Linked DNA regions of Homo sapiens. The protein of the gene in region 2 interacts with the protein of the main gene of each other region in a pairwise test. Each region holds a gene or a part of one and is shown on either strand. Other genes may lie near its edges. The genes, in order: NMD3 and YTHDF3.

Region 1 (3,825 bases), on a different chromosome or scaffold from region 2:
AAATCATTCTGAATATCACAAGTAGATACTTTTTTTCTCTTATACCCACCAATAAGCATTTACAGAACTATATATAACTTTCACAACAATGTATCTTAGAACGCTTGTTTAATAAATTATAGAATGAAAATAATTTTACAAAATACAAAATATTGTAAGATTGCCATGATCTCCTCTTATGACCTTGTTAGAAATACCTATTTAGACTTACACTCCAACCACGCTGTTAATTCCTAATTTATCAACTAATAAAAGTACAACTGGGCAGGTGGTCGGAGTCCTTGATTTGTCATGGCTCTACTTTTTTTGCTCACTGCTAAAGAAATCAATGTTTATTCTAAAAGATTAAGCAAGTATAGAAGACAGGGTCTTTCACACTAATTTCATTCAGTTTCTCATGATTCTTAACCTCATCATGTTAGAACTTAACAGATTTTTCAGAATTAATAGTTTTTTTCCAAGGCTTGATACTGTGAAGATTATTTTTCACGGATATTTTATTCAGCTTTGAATAACAGCCTTAACTCTAAATGCCTTCTTAACTGAACAATGTATGTGAAACGAAGTGAGCCTAATAAAAATGAACCTGAAAAAATGCTAAATGTCATCATTTTTAGCTGCAAATTTATTTATTTATCTTTTGGAGACGGAATCTTGCTCTATCACCCAGGCTGGAATGCAGTGGCATGATCTTGGCTCACTGCAACCTCCACTTCCCAGGTTCAAGCAATTCTCCTGCCTCAGCCTCCTAAGTAGCTGGGACTACAGGTGCATGCCACCACGCCTGGCTAATTTTTTGTATTTTAGTAAAGATGGGGTTTCACTGTGTTTTCCAGGCTGGTCTCGAACTCCTAAGCTCAAGCAATCCACCCACCTCAGCCTCCCAGAGTGCTAGGATTACAGGCATGAGCCACCGCACCCGGCTAAATTTATTTTTGCTCTACAGATAATATCAGGTATTTTGATCGAGAATGAAAATGTGATTAGAAAAGGAACAATCACAATAAATCTTGGATTTACCCCACCAAGAAAAATTATTTAAAATGAAGCCAGGCATGATAGGTGACACCTGTAATCCCAGCTACTTGAGAGGCTGAGGTGGGAGGATCACTTGAAGCCAGGAGTTCGAGACCAGCCTGAGCAACATAACAAGACCCCGTCTCTACAAAACGTGTTTTAAACATTAGCTGGGAGTGGTGGCATGTGCCTGTAGTCTCAGCTACTCAGGAGGCTGAGGTGGGAGGATTACTTGAGCTCAGAATTTTGAGCTGCAGTGAGTGATCATGACACTGCACGCAAGCCTGGTCAATAAAGCAAGACTCCCATTTCTTTTTTTTTTTTTTGAGACTGAGTTTTGTTCTTGTTGCCCAGCCTGGAGTGCAACGGCGCAATCTCAGCTTACCACAACCTCCACCTCCTCGGTTCAGGCAATTCTCCTACCTCAGCCTCCCAAGTAGCTGGGATTACAAGCTTGCACTACCACGCCTGGCTAATTTTTTTGTATTTTTAATAGAGACAGGGTTTCTCCATGTTGGTCAGGCTGGTCTCGAACTCCCAACCTCAGGTGATCCACCTGCCTAGGCCTCCCAAAGTGCTGGGATTACAGGCTTGAGCCACTGCACCCAGCCTCCTGTTTCTTTAAAAAAAAAAAAAAAAAATTTTGCTATTATACCTTATCTGCAGTTTCAGAAATCTCTAAATTGATTTGTTATTTTCAAAAGTGTGAACTCCTACCTCTTACCCCTAAGAGTTACATTCATCCTCTTTAACACAGGAAAAAAGGGAAAAATCTAAAGCCTTACCACATCTGGAACTCTATCTGAGTTCATTTTGTTGACATGCTCATCATTTAAGTTACAGTTGGCCAAATCAAACCTGAAATGTAAACAATGAAAAACTTAGTGACCATTTACCCTTTGTGTGTAACTTTTTATTTTATGGCTATCACCTAAAACTTCCTAAAAATCAAACATTTAATATGCTTCTCACTTTAAAAGTTCTGTCATTTATTACACAATGAACATGCTTCTGTAGATGCTGGTAAAGACAATAAGGAACTCTGAGTTTCACTTATAATCAATTATTGTCCACCTTGCCATACATTTGTAAAAGCAAAACAGACTTACATATCAGTCCAACTTTAGAATTCAATTAGTTGCTTCCTTCTAGTTTATTTTAAACAAACAAACAAAAAAAAAACACCTCATTCTGTAGTAAAAGAAACTGAAATCCTAAAAGCAAAAGCAATATTTGAGGGTTTAATCACACACTCACTGAAAAACTCTGATTCAGAAAGAACTGATCTATGCCTTTACAAGCCCTTTGTATATATATAGTTGTCATATCTTAAAAGTGAGTTATCTGAGCAGTAGCAACTGCACAATAAAAAAGACCCAATCTGCAAAAGCAGTTCTAAATATGGATACAACCATATAACTTCAAGGCTCAATTAACAAAATCTTACAACAAATTACTCTTTAAGATTATAACCAAAATGGAGTAACTATGGGCTTCTGTCCAACCCAGTTTAATTTAGTTATCAACAATAAAATGAGTTATAAGGCTCCTAAGAACCCTTCGATCTTTTTAGAATAAACAATGTTAGTATTTTTAGGTAGTTTTGCTGGTTCCCAAAGAAAATTTGCAATCCTAATTGGCAGTTTAAAATATGAAATAATACAAACCCTAACACCAGGTCTCCGGGATTTAGAAGATGTCCCAAATGAGTACGACAAAAATACTGTTTATCTGTATTCATTTCAGATGTCTTCTGTACCCAGACTTCCCCGAGGGTATGCTTAAGAGGAAAGAAAATGTACTCTTCAATAATCTAAACATAACTCTAAAAGCATCTCAGAGAAAAGTTAAATACAATATTGATTTTTGGTTTTCTAATTTTTAAAGACAGAAAATTTTTTGTATTTTTCTGATGTATGAAACACTGTCAAAATTAACAAATTACTGAATCATGAGTATAGAAAGACTCACAAACAATTCATAAAAATAAATCATTGACTTTTTCTAAGATTTTATTCAAGACTTTTATAAAACATTAATAATGTCCCTAAAAATATATATATGTAGAATTTTCAAAAGAAATGTTTTCACAGGAAGATGGGCCAACATAGGCAGAGTGAACAAAATAACTGAAAAGGTAGGGGAATCTTAAAGCAAGAACGTATTCCAAGCAAACTCTTGCTTGACACAAGGGTTCAGAAAATCAGGGTCCAGACAAAACAGCCTAGAAATCCTGGTAGTAAACCACTAGAGAGGCCAAATCTTTATCAAATTAATTTTTAAAGTATCTACTAGTGTAGACTACAATCATTCTCTACATCTGCTATATATAATATAGTACATCTGCTATATATAATATATATATAGCAGAAACAACATCCCAATTTTTAAACTAGAAAACTATTAATTCCCTTTCTAACATGCCAACACCTTTAACAACAAAGACAGACCAACTGAAGTGAGATCGAGAGAAAAATACTAAGAGTTATAAATAAAATTAAGGAATCTCAAAATAAAGTTATGAAAAGAATCAAGTGTTTCTTATTGCAGTTGGTCAAAGAAAAAGAAATGAAAAAAATGAAAAGAAATAGAGCAGAAGGAGAAACTGAAATAAAAGACAAGTCTCAAACTTAAGAACTGCAAAAGAAAAGTCAATTAACAGGGAGACTACATTTTATTTAACAGGATTTACTTTCTAGCTATTAGACTTCTGCTTGTAAGAAATTTATTAACCTCTTCTAGCTATTTTTTAAAAACCAAGAAAATACAGTATCTGGTTTTATATCTGCCTGAAGGGAAATGATACTC
Region 2 (3,825 bases):
TTTACCCCTACTAAGTTTCAAAAGAAATTTAAATGTATCCCCTATAGAAAAGCCCATCCATTTTCTCTTTCCACCTAAAAATAGGACCCCAATTTTACGTTACAGTTTGGAAGAGAAAACTTTCCCTAGTTGAACTGACTCTTGTGGCCCTGTGATCAAAGTCTAGCCAATATTTGGGGGGCTAATCCCCATATGGGCCACTCAATAGGATATTTTTAAAAAATAAAAATAAAAATATTCTGGCCAATATAATACAAGGATAAACAGCATGTTTTATTTCAGGAATGTCTCCCTCAATCTTACAGAGGGTATATAACAGAATTAGGAATCAAATTCTGCAAAGCCTCTATTTTGTACAAGTGCTTTAAGTATAAAAATTATAAAAATACTTCAAGAGTTTTATGTTTTAAAAACATATTTTGCCAGGCACAGTGGCTCATGCCTGTAATCCCAGCACTTTGGGAGGCCGAGGCGCACGGATCACGAGGTCAGCAGTTCAAGACCAGCCTGGCCAACATGGTGAAACTCGTCTCTATTAAAAATACAAAAATTTGGCAGGCATGGTGGCGTGTGCCTGTAATCCCAGCTACTCGGGAGGCTGAGGCAAGAGAATCACTTGAATCCGGGAGGCGGACGTTGCAGTGAGCCAAGACCACTCCATTGCACTCCAGCCTGGGCGACAGAGAGCGACTCCATCTCACAAAAGAAAAAAAAAAAAAAAAAAAAAAATATATATATATATATATATATATGTAATTTCTTATAAACACAAAATTAGAGTAAAACATTTATTTAAAAGTTGTTTCAGCTGGGTGCAGTGACTCAGGACTGTAATCCCAACATTTTGGGAGGCAGAGGGGTAGGGGCAGATCCTTTGAGCTCAGGAGACCAGCCCGGGCAACATGGTGAAACCCTCTATCTACAATAAATACAAAAATTAGCCAGGCGTGGTGGTGTGTGACCGTAGTCCCAGCTACTCGGGAAGCTGAGGTAGGAGGATCACTTGAGCCCAGCAGATCAAGGCTGCAGTGAGCCATGTTCACGCCAGTACACTCCTGCCGGGACAAGAGAGACCCTGTCTGAAAAAAAATTAAATAATATATAAAATATAAATAAATAAAAACTTGTTTTAAGTGCCAGGTTCAGTGGTACAGGTCTGTAGTCCCAGCTACTTGGGAGTCTAAGGCAGGAGGATTGCTTGGGGCCAGGAACTTGAGGCTATACGCCATAACTGCACCTGTGAATAGCCACTGCACTCCAGCCTGGGCAACACAGCAAGATGTCATCTCAAAAAAAAAGTTGTTTCAAACTCTAAATATATTTTCTCCTATGTTAGTATGATTAATAATATTAATGATTAGAGCCCCTGGTTAGTTCATGAAGTCTGTTTAGTTACAAATGCCAAAATTCATTCAGCTTTGATGATAAACACTGAGGCCCAATGGCCTTTATCATCTAGGGAGTATGAAGAATGAGCAAGAGGCTAACTCAGCGTGAGTTACCCTGGGAAAGGAAAGAAGAAATGGTTCATATAGGACACACATAGATACCTTCAAGGGTGTTTGTAGAGTTGTTTCTTAAGTAGTTGGTTTCCTTCACAGAAAGTTCTTAAACTCAGAATATACCCATCCATGCACCCCACCAGCAATACAAAGACCCCAAACAAAAAATTACTATATTCTTACCCTACGCATGGCTTCCTCCTCTTCTTGACGCTTTTCATAATGTGCAAAGTCATCAAAGATTGAGGTGGTATGCTTGAAAGTAGCAATTATTTTAAGCACTTGCTTAGCTTTTTCTAGGGGTACCTCTTGAGTGTCCCTTGAATTGGTAACCGGTTTGTTGTCATTATTTTCTAAGCGAATATGCCGTAATTGGTTATTGGGAACATCTTTGACAAAGATCCATTTAACTTCAAATTTGCCCTTCCACTTATCCTGAGACCAGACACCAGCATACGCATTATAGTCCACAACAGACTTCATTTCAGCCACTCCACAAAAATGTCCACTGCCATTCACACTGAAGAGTAAATAGAGTGGGCCTTTCCCATTCAGGGAACGGTAAGCTGCATCCAAACGCTTATTACCATGCTCAGTACTACACCAGATAGAGTATTTAATGGAACGATGTATGTCATCCTCAGAGTAGCTTTTAATTATAAACACACGTCCATTCTTCAGATTCCAATCAAAGTCTTTGGGATTATAGTTGTTTATGGCCTTTAGCTTTTCCAGCACGGGATGCACTTCTACACTAGAAGGTGAAGCACTGACAGGTACAACACCTAAACCAAAGTTTTCACTGCCCGCTCCATTGTTCTGGTTGAAGCCTGCTCCCCTGTTACGAGGAGCTACCCAGCGATTCTGCAGCTGCTGCTGTTGAGGCTGCACTTGGTGAGGCTGGGCCTGTGGCTGAGGTCCTTGTTGCTGCTGTGGTTGTGGTGGTTGAGGCTGCTGTTGAGGCAGTTGGCTTTGCACCAATGGTGGTGGTTGAATTAATGGCTGAGGCTGCTGGATTATAGTTTGAGGAGGCAGAACTGGTTGGGTTGGTGGAGCCTTTACCACTGACCCTTTTTCATCCCAAGTTCCAATATTCATGTTGTGTTTTATAGGAGGTGGTGGTACAGCAGAACCCCCAATTCCCACATTGCCCTTGGGTTTAAGTTTCGGTTGAGGTTTGGCAGGCTTTCTGGCAATGGCAGCCCAGGAGGTTGGTTTAGGTGCTGCACTGCTAACTGGGGGCACACTATTGGTTGCAATGCTAGTCATACCACTGCTGCTCAAAGCTGTACCTACAGTTTTTGTCACTGCAGCTGTCAGGTCACCACCAATTTTCAGTCCAGTCATGCCTTGCTCAATACTGCTAATGCCAGGCACCTTACTCAAAGTATCATTGCCAAATCCAGCCTGTCCATCAGTAATAGCTCTCCCAAGAGAACTAGGTGGATAGCCATAACTGCTACTATAAGCAGAACTTTGTGTTGATTGTCCCTGAGATCCACTTGTCCCCCATGTAGAGAAATCAGCATTACCAGGAAAAAAGTTAAATCCATGTTGACCAAGAAATGGAGGGGTATTTCCTAATGCCCCAGGTTGACTAAATACACCATCTGGTATATAGTGATGTTCTCCATTACTCATTTGTCCATAGGTTGTCAGATATGGCATAGGCTGGTCTCCAGCTGTGGACCACGCTGCTTCCCCAAGAGAATATGGAAATCCAATGGATGGAGCATAGTAACTAGGCATGTATGGATCTGACATTGGTGGATAGCTGTTACTCTGCAAAACAAAATATCACAATCAGTAGCGAAATGTCCTCTTAAAAGAGCAAAAAAAGAAATCTGAAAGATTAAAATCAAGAAGTTTTAAGTAAATGAAAATAAAAGATGTACCTATTCTAGATAAACAAAATTAAAATTTCAAATCCAGTTTTATCAACAGAAAAATTTGCTGATGAGTAGTCACATCTTAAAATATTTCTTACAAACTAACCTATATGGCTTTTTTCAGGGATGAGAGTGGGGGTATAATGAGTATTATTTTTGTTTGAAGAGCCAGGCCCTCTGTCACAATTTAAAAATATCATAATTTCTACAAAAGGCTAATATATAAACTTTGTGGACACAAAATTACCATTTACAGCCAGCTGTACTTTAATCAATTGATGTATGCAATCACTTACACACAAGGATTAAATAAACTAGACAACTCTGCCGAATAATAGAGGAATTACAGCTTATCTATATGATGGAATCCAGTTCAACCATTAGATTTTGTACTTTCATTAAGGAAAAAATGGAGAAATGCTCACAGTCTTGAG

The links.
Region 1: the proteins of YTHDF3 (region 2) and NMD3 interact in a two-hybrid assay, tested with the Homo sapiens proteins (one large-scale study listed by BioGRID).

The regions. Positions count from the first base shown.
Region 1 is NC_000003.12:161,245,308-161,249,132, reverse strand, and holds part of NMD3 (60S ribosomal export protein NMD3), read right to left. Parts: intron 2,798-3,825; coding exon 2,685-2,797; intron 1,876-2,684; coding exon 1,803-1,875; intron 1-1,802. UniProt on the Homo sapiens protein: Acts as an adapter for the XPO1/CRM1-mediated export of the 60S ribosomal subunit.
Region 2 is NC_000008.11:63,185,606-63,189,430, reverse strand, and holds part of YTHDF3 (YTH domain-containing family protein 3), read right to left. Parts: intron 3,285-3,825; coding exon 1,686-3,284; intron 1-1,685. UniProt on the Homo sapiens protein: Specifically recognizes and binds N6-methyladenosine (m6A)-containing RNAs, and regulates their stability. M6A is a modification present at internal sites of mRNAs and some non-coding RNAs and plays a role in mRNA stability and processing.